4 separate regions of the Homo sapiens genome follow, and regions 2, 3 and 4 are each linked to region 1. Evidence: fine-mapped expression QTL. A gene starts in region 1. Each other region holds a variant in brackets. All regions are shown on one strand. Distances are from middle to middle. Region 1 holds the start of USP30-AS1 (USP30 antisense RNA 1). Region 2 overlaps SVOP (SV2 related protein). Region 3 overlaps USP30 (ubiquitin specific peptidase 30). Region 4 overlaps SVOP (SV2 related protein).

Region 1 (2,689 bases):
AGCTACTCTGGAGGCCGAGGCAGAATGGCTTGAGTCCAAGAGGCGGAGGTTACAGTGAGCCCAGATTGCGCCACTGCACTCCAGCCTGGGTGACTGAGCGAGACTCTGCCTCAAAAAAAAAAAAAAAAAAAATATATATATATATATATATATGTATATATATGTGTGTGTGTATATATATATAAAATATTTATTGAATGACTGAATACTGGAGAAAATATACAGAAATGAATTTCTCTTTTAGAATATTAGACAGGGAAGGGGCACACATACAATGGTATAAAAGAGCTGAATATTTATAAAATTAAAGATTTCCTAACTTCAGGCTTGACTTGAACGCTGGTTATGCTTTTGCTACATATTAAGAAATTTCCCCAACAATTTAAAACATTGTTTTTATACAAAGTTATATATTTCTACAAAATAAGACAAACCATCTATGTGTATATAGCTATGTAATGTGTATCTGCATATATGTTACACATGCATACATACGTGTTTGTGTGTGTGTGTGTGTAATACATTATTATCCCAGTATTTGGATCATGTGAATATTGTTTTGATTTCAGTTCAGTAAACATTAACTTGGTGAAGAGTCACTGGTGGTAATATTGACCCTGTTTTATAATAATCAGCATTTCTTAGTATCATAGCTGATAGCTGAATTTCAGATAAATATTTGTTTTCCAAGACAGAGTCAACAGAATATGCACCAAACTTGGTTAAGAAAGTGGGATTACCTTATTCTGGTTCAATCCTGGCTTTGCTATTTCATTTGGCATCACTTCACCTTCTAAGCCTCAGTTTCCTCATCTGTACAATGGGGACAATCCATAAGACCTACCTCATAGGGCTGTTGTGAGGATTAAATAAGTGTGAATGCATACAGTACATAGTAAGAACTTAATAAATGTTAGCTGCTACAAATTAAGCATTACAATCTCAGGATCATTCATGAAAGCTATTCTTTCTTTTTTTCTTATTTTTATTTTTATTTTTTTTTGAGACAGTGTCTTGCTCTAGTTGCTCTAGTGCCCAGGCTGGAGTGCAGTGGTGCCATCTCAGCTCAACACAATCTTCACCTTCCGGGCTCAGGTGATCCTCCTGCCTCAGCCTCCCAAGTAGCTGGGACCACAGCTGCACACCACATGCCCAGGTAATTTTTAAATTTTTTTGTAGAGACAGGGTCTCACTACATTGCCCAGGCTGGTCTCGAACTCCTGAGCTCAAGAAATCCACCTGCCTCAGCCTTCCAAAGAGCTGGGATTACAGGTGTGAGCCACCATGCCCAGCTGGTGAAAGGTATTCTTGAAGTTTCTTAATACATCACTGTGCTTTTACACGATACGTGAGTTCACAAAAGTGCCTGGAAAGATTATAAAGGACTGTCATGGAAGTGCTAAGGTGCTTTACCAGTGCTTTAAAATCCCCTAATCAAACACTAATATTTAAGGGTACATACTCTCTGCCAGGCCCTGTGACAATCTTACCTCATTTTTAAAACAACCCCACAGATGCAGGTTCTACTATCACTTTCATTTTTATAGCAGAAGAAACTAAGAGCCCAACTTGGTCACAGTGAGTGAAGGAACATGGCTCTGAATCATGCCTGTCTGTCTCCCCAGGTCTGTGCTTAAAACCACGAAGTTCAAGATGGAAACTGAAGGGAAGAGTGTCAAGGGGATGGGAGAGAGGACTTGTCCATGACTTTGGCAGCATAAGGAAAAAATACCCAGGGACAAGTGGCGACTTTGGAAACTCCATTCCTCTGCAAAATGACATCACGAGGAGAGTGGTGGGGCCTGCGGATGAAAAGATCTGGCTTCTCCTCCCAACTCTGCTATGAGGTCAGCTATGGGGCCACACTTCCTATCTACGGAATGGGGGCACTGGACAGGATAAGTATCGAGGACTTTCAGCCCTGGGATAATAAGCTCTTTAAACCTGCTCCAGTTCCAGAGGAAGCCGACCTGAGCAACAGGTCTCAGTCATTTGGGGTCAGCAGTGGGGGAGGGGGTACTCAGTTCTGAAGCCTGGAGCCCTTGGGAGGGTGAATAAGAGGGAAATGGGGGCCCTGACAGGATTGGGGACCCAGGCAATCGAGGAGTCCTAACAAGAACGGAGGGCTTTAACAGGACCAAGCAACCTTAACAGGTTAAAGGGGCCCTGACCAATTTAGAGACCCTTGCAAAACAAGGGCCTTTACTCACACTAACAACATCAGGGACCCAGACAGAAGTGGCGATCCATATTAGACTAGAGGGCGGGCTAACAGGAATAGGGGGCGGTACTAACAAAACGCGGGGCTCGCAGGCCCGGGGCACTTATAGGACTAGAAGAACCGTGCCAAGGTTGGGGAACCCTGGCAGTCCAGAAACTGATATGATTGGGGGACCCAGAAGGACTGGGGGTATACTAGAAGGATTGAGGGGTCTTGGCAGGCCTAGGAGGCACTGAAAGGACTGAGGGCACTGACAGAATTAGGGGCCTTGACAAGACTGGAGTGCCCCGGGTGTCCTGGGAACAATGACAGGAGGGGGAGGGACTGACAGACCTGGGGAGTGCAGACAGAATTGGTGTTGCCGAAGGACTGGAGCCCGTCAGTCCTCCCACCTACGGGCCCAGGCCTCCAACCCTAAAGGACGCAGAACCTTCCAGAATGCCCGCGCGGGCCCTGGAGACCCCAACT
Region 2 (2,689 bases), 84 kb after region 1:
CAACCTCGGCCTCCTGGGTTCAAGTGATTCTCCTGCCTCAGCCACCCAAGTAGCTGGGATTACAGGCACCTGCCACCAAGCCTGGCTAATTTTTGTATTTTTAGTACAGACAGGGTTTCACCATGTTGGCCAGGCTGGTCTCAAACTCCTGACCTCAAGTGATCCACCGGCCATGGCCTCCCAAAGTGCTGAGATTACAGGCATGAGCCACTGTGCTCAGCCAAATTGACCTCTTTGATTATCAATTTCCTAATACGTATAAAGAAGAAAATAACAGAACCTGTATTGGAGGGTTAATAGAGATGAATTAGGGTTAATTGAGGTGTAAATCACTGTTTCTTTTGTTTTTTTGAGACAAGGTCTTGCTCTGTTGCCCAGGCTGGAGTGCAAAGGTGCAATCATAGCTAACTGCAGCCTTGACCTTCTGGGCTCAAGCAATCCTCCCACCTGAGCCTCCCAAGTAGCTGGGACAAGACTTGTGCCACCATGCCCAGCTAATTGTTTTTTTATTTTTTGTAGACAGACAGGGTCTCACTATGTTGCCCAGGCTGGTCTCAAACTCCTGGCCTCAAGCAGTCCTCCCACCTCAGCCTCCCAAAGTGCTGGGATTACAGATGTGAGCCACTGTGTGAATCTCTTTGTACAATGCCAGGCACATGCTAGGCACAGGACACATGTAAACTGAAATTCCGAGTGTAGCATTTCTGACAAGACCCCATGCAATGTCAATGCTTGGGACCATACTTTGAAAACGATTGGCTTAGACTAAGAATAACCTACTACTGGAGCTGGGAATGGGCTACCTCAACAAACCTAGAATTCTGTTAGGAAGGAAGAAGTGAGATCTGGATGCTGGGTAGGTAACAGGCAATCTCCACTACAACTAGCAAATCATGGGCTGAAAATAAAATAGCGCGTTGTATAGCAGGCATGATGCAAAGTATGGTTCATGCGTTAGCTCATCCAATCCCCTTAATAACCATTGAAGTAGGTGCTATTATCACTCTAACTTGATAGAAGAGGAAACTGAGGCACGGAGAGTGGGCAACTTACCCAGGACCACATGGTTTGCTCATCACAGAATCAGGTCTTGCTCATTCTAAGTCTAGAGCTCTGTCTTCACTATGATGCCTGTGGCTTGAATCAGTAGGTGCTCCAGAAGCAGGTGATGGCTCAATGAATGAATGAACGTTCCAGCAATGCCATAGAGGATGCAGACTCCAGCTGCATCCCCTCTCACTGCTATTGCGCAGGAAACTTGGGCCAGCAGACACCTGGAAGATGGTGATCAATATAACTGCCAAGAAATGGTGATCAATATAATTGCCAAGAATGTAACTCCAGAGGCAGCAGGCTGGAAACTAAATGCAGCCATGATGGGCCT[C/T]GGGGTCTTGGCCGGTGATGGGGCTGGAGATGGCAGTTGGAAAGGCCTCTCTGGGGCTCCCAAAGGAAGTAAAAGCTGGTTATTACCCCCCTGTTAACCCAAGAAGGAATTACTCTGGTCTTCAGTGGCAGCTCCTTAGATTCTGCCCCCATCTGCTCTCCCACCCACTTCCTGTTTCTGGAGCATATGAGTGATGGCATGGTGATTTTCTGTTTGGAAGAATGAACAAGAGTTTAAGGACAGGAGAGAGGAAGGAAGGAAGGAAGGAAAAAAAAGGAGGAGGGAAGTAAAGAAGAAGGGAGGGAGGGAGAAGGGACAGAGGGAGGGAAGGAAGAAAAAAAGGAAGGAACTAAAGAGGGCATGAACGCGGTGGCTCATGCCTGTAATCCCAGCACTTTGGGAGGCCGAGGTGGGAGGATGACCTGAGGTCAGAAGTTCGAGACCAGCCTGACCAACATGGTGAAACCCCATCTCTACTGAAAATACAAAATTAGCCAGGCATGGTGGCGCATGCCTGTAAGCTACTCAGGAGCCGAGATCGTGCCATTGCACTCCAGCCTGGGCAACAAGAGTGAAAATTTGTCTCAGAAAAAAAAAAAAGAAAGAAAAGGAAAGGGGGAAAGAAGAAAGGAGAAAGAGAGCGAGGTAGGAAGGGAGGGGGGAGGAAGAAAGGAAGGAGGTAGGGAGAGAGAGTGAGGAAGGGGGAGAAGGAAGAAAAAAGGAAGAAAGGAGGGAGGGAAGGAGGAGGGAAGGAAGGAGAGAAGAAAAAACACCTCTGAAAATAAAACAGAGTCATTTTTGTTTTGATGGAGCTGAGCAGCCGTTAAAAGAACTGTAAAGCTGTGGCTGTCTGAGGCTGAATCCAATGTTAATCTTTAAGCCTTTAAAATAATCAAAGGAGGCCAGGAGTGGTGGCTCATGCCTGTAATCCCAGCACTTTGGGAGGACAGATCACCTGAGCTCAGGAGTTAGAGACCAGCCTAGGCAACATGGCGAAACCCCATCTCTACAAAAACTACAAAACTTAGCCAGGCCCAGTGGCATGCACCTGTAGTGCCAGGTACTCAGGAGGCTGAGGCAGGAGAATTGCTTGAACCCAGGATGGGGAGGCTGCAGTGAGCCGAGATCATGCCACTACACTCCAGCCTGGGCAACAGAGCGAGACTCTGTCTGGAAAAAAAAATTCATTTATTTGTTCCTGAGACAAACATGCACAAACACACACACACACACACACACAAAAGACAAACATGCACACACACACACACACACACTTCAGGAATCCATAATGAGGAAATTTGCTGA
Region 3 (2,689 bases), 26 kb before region 1:
CATGCCACCATATGAAAGTTAAGAGAGGGTTCAACCAACCATGTATCTGAATTACACATAGTGCCTGAGCCACATAAAATGCCTCAAAGCCCTTTCAGATTGAAATGTTTCTGAAACAGACTCCAAATAAACCATAAATCAGTACATACCCATGTGGCGGCTGGAATACTTAGTGAAAGGCTATCAAAGGTATCAAATCGAACAGGACTCTGAAAGAAATATTGCAGAAAATCCAGAAACGATTTAGGCTTAGTTCAAAGTTTTAAAGATGCAAGATATGTGACTATGAAACAGTTTAATATTGAGATGCCCAACATTAACACAGTAAAATATAATGTACTTAGAATAAAATTCTATTAAAACATATTAAAACAACCTTGTACACATAAGAGGTACAATAATACTAAAGAATCGCTTGGAACAACTGAAAGATTAAATATCTGACCCAGCAATAATTTTGGGATTTTTAAGGAAATAACCATGGGCATAACTACAAGAATATTCATCAACATTATTTGTAATAGCAAAAATTTGAATACAGTCAGCATCACTTAACAATGGGGATACAGTCTGAGAAATGCATCCTTAGGTGATGTCATCATTGTGTAAACATCGCAGAGCGCGCTTACAAGAACCTAGATGGTGCAGCCTACTACACACCTAGGCTATACTGTCTAGCTACTACTCCTAGGCTACCAACCTGTATAACATGTTACCGTACTGAATGCTGTAAGCAACTGTAACACAGTGGGCAGTACTTGTGTATCTAAAAACAGAAAAGGTACCGTACCAATAAAGTATTATAATCTTACGGGACCACCATCATATATGTGGTTTGTCATTGACCAAAACATCATTATATAGCACATGACTGTAGTTGGAAGTTCTAGCAAATGGTTTAATAAATTATATGGCATGTCCACAGAATGAAACACTATGTTAAACAAAATGTAGAAGAACATATGATCATGTGGAAAGATGTTCATGTTAGATTATTCATTGCAAAAAAGGAGACGATGAAGTAGGGTGAGAGAGTTCCTGCTTTTGGTGATGGCAGAGGTGCTTGGGTAGATTGGCCCTCCTTGAGATAACAATTGTAAAGTTTGCAACAAAACAAAACCGTTTGAATGAACGGAGAGCTACCAAAAGCAGGCAGAAATGGAAAAGAAGTCAACTGTTGGAAAAACAGAACTCTGTGGGCGAGATTTGTGTGT[T/C]TGTGGCTTTTTTTCCTGGTTGATGTGGTGCTGGGTGGCGAAAAGCAGCATCCTACAGGATTGAGTGGTCAGACGACAGAGTTCAAGAATCAGGGCTGGTGGAGAGACCAGGGGAAATGCCAGGAAGAAAGGAGACACAGAGGGGATGAGCCCCAAAGTTTATACCTAAACTCTGTTCAATTCCAGGGCTGATCCCTGAACCACACGTGCACAGGGGGAAACTCCAGGGAGCCTGGCAAAAAGTAGCAGCTGGAAGCTAAAAAAACTGAGCAGAGATTTTGCTGCCCAATGTAGGGGAGACAGAGTTGAGTTTGAGCCCAGCCAGGTTAACTGCAGGCCAGAAGAAAATTAATTTTTCTTCATAGATATGTAACAGAATCCCTACTCTCTATGTCTCTATTATGATGTTAAGCATACAATAAAAAATTACCAAACATAAAATACAAAGAAGTCAGCACACGAGGACCTCACAGATGTATCATAAATATGCTCAAGGATGTAAAGGAAAATATACAGTGACAGTGAATGAACAAATTGAGAATCTCAGAACAATGGAAACTATTAAAAAGAAGGCAATGGAAATTCTATAACTAAAAACAACAGTGATTACGATGAAAAATTTGTTGCATAGGCAAACAGAGATTGGAGATGAAAAAAGAATCAGGCCAGGTATGGTGGCTCACACCTGTAATCCCAACACTTTGGGAGGCTGAAGTGTAAGGATCACTTGAGCCCAGGAGTTCAGGACCAACCTGAGCAACACAGTGAGACCCTGTCTCTACAAAAAATAAAAAAAAATTAGCTGGGTGTGGTGGCACACACCTGTAGTCCCAGCTGCTCAGGGGGCTAAGGTGGGAGGATAACTTGAGCCTGGGAGGTTGAGGCTGCAGTGAGCTATGATCACATTATTGCAATCCAGCCTCGGTGACAGAGCTAAGACCCCTGTCACAAAAAAAAAAAAAAAAAAAAAAAAAAAAGAAAAAAAAAAAGAAAAAGAAAAGAAAAAAAGAGAAAAAAGAATCAGTGAACGTGAAGATAAGTCAATAGAAATGATCTAATTTAAAGAACACACAGAAGAAAGATTGAAGAAAATTGAACAAGACCTCAGTGACCTGTGGGCCAACATTAAGTAAAATAACAAGTGAAAAATGGGCATAAAATCTTTGTTGAAAAAATAACAGCCAAGAATTTTCAAACTTGGTTAAAAAAAGTACAAATTTAAGAAACTCAGCAAACCCCAAACAAGATAAATAAGATAAATACTAAGAAAACCACATCTATGCGCAGCATGAACAAAAATAAAGAGAAAATTTTGTAAGCAGTGTAAGCAGAAGAAAAACAAATGACAATTTACATAGACAAGAATGATATAAATGACACTAACTGAGAAAATGGAGGCCAGAAGACAATAGAACAATGTCCTTAAAGTGATGAATTTAAAATAAACCAAAGCAAAACCACGGCAACACTGTCAA
Region 4 (2,689 bases), 47 kb after region 1:
CCAGGATATAAGCTAGTGGTCTGCTATCCTAGGAACAAGCTCATTGCTATTCAGGTTGACGGGGATGGCAGAAAAATGCAAATAAATAAAATCCACAGAGAACTAAAATTTCCATTAATTATAGACTTCTAACACATTCAGAAATGGAAGGAAACTTAAAGGTCATCACATCCAACCCCTCACACCCCATCTCCCCAGTTCAGAGCAGGCAGGCATCAGATGGTGACTTTCAGACTTCTGTGGCTGCCATCAACATCTTATTAAAATTCAGGTTCTTGGGCCCCACTCTGTAGAGATGCAAAAGCATTATTAGGTCTAGAGTATGGCCCAGGAATCAGCATTTTAATCAGTTCCACAGGGGTATTCTTGGCTTCAGGTACAGAAGCTTTGGCTGACTGGTTAAGATCATGGGTTTTGGAGCTACTTGAGCCAGGGTCCTAGTACACTGCATATTATCTAGGAGACCTGGAACCATTGGTGTAACCTCTCCAGCCTCAGCTTAGTTGTCTATAAACTGGAGATTTTTTTTTTTTGAGACAGGGTCTCACTCTGTCACCCTGGCTGGAGTGCAGTGGTGCAATCATAGCTCACTGCAGTCTTCACCTCTTGGGTTCAAATGATCCTTCCATCTCATCCTCCCCAGTAGCTGAGACCAAAGGTGCGTACCACCACGGTCAGCTAATTTTTTAATTTTTTGTAGAGACATGGTCTTGCCATGTTGCCCAGGTTGGTCTCGAACTCCTGGGCTCAGGTGATCCTCCCACCTCAGCCTCCCAAGTGTTGGGATTATAGGCATGAGCCACTGTGCTGGCTGAAACTAGAGTTATTAATAATACTTCCCTGTTATGATTGTTGAGTGCATTACATAAGATAGTTTATAACACTCAGGCTTGGACCTGGCATGCTGAAGTGATGCATAAATATTAAATATCATTACTCCTGAGCCAATCACAGGGACACCTGCCTCTGTTGCAGTGCCTCTCATGAGAGTGAGCCCACTGCCTCCTAAAGCAGCCATTTTCATCTCTCGACTTCTGTGCCTGATAAGGCTCCTCTTTATATTGAGTTGAGATCTGCTTCCTTCTTTCTTATACCCAGAAGTTCAAGCTCTGCTGTTAGGATTCAGGTTGAGAGGCACCTTCTTTCACAGGTCAGAGCCTCAAA[T/A]ATTTGAAGAAGAGGTTCATCTCCTGGGAAGACTCTTCTCAAATCCTACAGCTCAGGGAGTGCCCCAGGTCTTGTCTTGAAGGAGACAAAGCAAGTCCATATGTTAGTGACCTTGGCAGTCTCTGCTGCTTCAAGTGCACAGCATCTAACTCCATTTGTTGATAAGTTTCAGATTCAGAAGACGCCACATCACCAGGGTATCTGGGACAAAGCTGAGGGATACTGGTTATCAGTGTTTTTGATCGAGTTCCCCAAACAAGGTGATCCCTTCTTGCAACCCTGCCTTCCACTGGCAGAGGAGCCTCCCTATGAAGATGTCTTCTTGTACTATTTGGAAGAGTTGGGGAGAAAGGGATGAATATTTAACAAAAGCCTCAGCCCTCCACCTCTCCAACCCCCCTAATCCAAACCACCACCACCTCTTCTCCCACTGGCCACACAGCTTCCTTCCTGGCCTCCCTGACTCCTCTGCAGCCATCTTTTTGTATTAACCAGGCCATTGATTGTTTATATTCTGATGCTTCAGCATCTTGGAGGCTTGCTGACCCTGGAGGGACTTGCCCCTCTCAGAGTTAACTAATTCCTAGAAATAGCAAACAGCTCACCTGCCAGCGTGCCTTTCCTATACAAACCAATCAGGCCAGAGCCTCAGGTCTCTCCAGCCGCCTTCTTTATCCAGCTCCCAGACTCCAGGCCACATCTACCTGCCCTCATCACCCCAGAACCAGGCATGAGACAATTAAGGACAGCCCCTATGCTCCAGAGAAGGATGAAATTATTCAAACGAACCGAACCTAAGCCGGCAGCCTCTGCCTTGCCCATTTCTTTCCTGGGAAACCACAATAAAGGCTCTTGGTCACGTTCTCCCCCTATACCCTCTGCCTCCTGACAAACCCTGGGGCTGCCATGTGTGCCCCTTAAAGTGTGGCATGCCCCTTCTTCTTGGGATCTGTAAGTATGACAGAGTATATCTTGTCAATGGCTCACATCTCGTGATTTCTCAGCCTTGCCATACCTAAATAATATTAAAACCTATATTTAAGAAACGCTTTCTGGGGTGGGCACAGTGGGTCACCCTGTAATCCCAGCACTTTGGGAGGCCCAGGTAGGCAGATCATCTGAGGTCAGGAGTTTGAGACCTTTCTGGCCAACATGGTGAAACCCCATCTCTACTAAAAATACAAAAATTAGCCAGGCGTGGTAGCAGGCAGCTGTAATCCCAGCTACTTGGGAGGTTGAGGCAGGAGAATCGCTTGAATCCAGGAGTGAGAAGTTGCAGTGAGCCGAGACTGTGCCACTGCACTCCAGCCTGGGTGACAAGAGTGAGACTCTTTCTCAAACAAAACAAAACAAAACAAAACAACCCACTTTCCTCCATTGATTCCTCCTCTTGCGGGAGAATGTGCTGAGTGACCTTCTCAAAACTCAACTCTGATCATCTTCCACCCTCTTGCTGCTACTTGAAACCCTTCCATGGTGTCCCACTGGTCTTAGGACAACACAGAAAATCCTCACTGTGACCTCC

Evidence for each region.
Region 2: its variant is fine-mapped to the expression of USP30-AS1 in whole blood (TOPMed, PIP 0.98).
Region 3: its variant is fine-mapped to the expression of USP30-AS1 in whole blood (INTERVAL, PIP 0.99).
Region 4: its variant is fine-mapped to the expression of USP30-AS1 in T cells (TOPMed, PIP 0.98).

What each region holds. Positions count from the first base shown.
Region 1 is chr12:109,052,844-109,055,532 of GRCh38, reverse strand. USP30-AS1 (USP30 antisense RNA 1) reads left to right here and starts at 1,568. Exons shown (of 2, transcript NR_038996.1): 1 at 1,568-1,847. The region is part of intron 1 of USP30 (ubiquitin specific peptidase 30); the gene reads right to left. RefSeq lists enhancers at 1,561-1,930, 2,264-2,689.
Region 2 is chr12:108,968,680-108,971,368 of GRCh38, reverse strand. The region is part of intron 5 of SVOP (SV2 related protein); the gene reads left to right. Among named protein-coding and RNA genes, the nearest start is that of SVOP, 51 kb to the left of the region's middle. The variant C/T (reference allele first, on the strand shown) is at 1,385.
Region 3 is chr12:109,078,854-109,081,542 of GRCh38, reverse strand. USP30 (ubiquitin specific peptidase 30) reads right to left here. Exons shown (of 13, transcript NM_032663.5): 8 at 150-209. Among named protein-coding and RNA genes, the nearest start is that of ALKBH2, 13 kb to the left of the region's middle. The variant T/C (reference allele first, on the strand shown) is at 1,215.
Region 4 is chr12:109,005,882-109,008,570 of GRCh38, reverse strand. The region is part of intron 1 of SVOP (SV2 related protein); the gene reads left to right. It overlaps LOC105378256 (a long non-coding RNA gene), which reads right to left. Exons shown (of 3, transcript XR_945331.3): 3 at 850-1,491. Among named protein-coding and RNA genes, the nearest start is that of SVOP, 14 kb to the left of the region's middle. The variant T/A (reference allele first, on the strand shown) is at 1,165.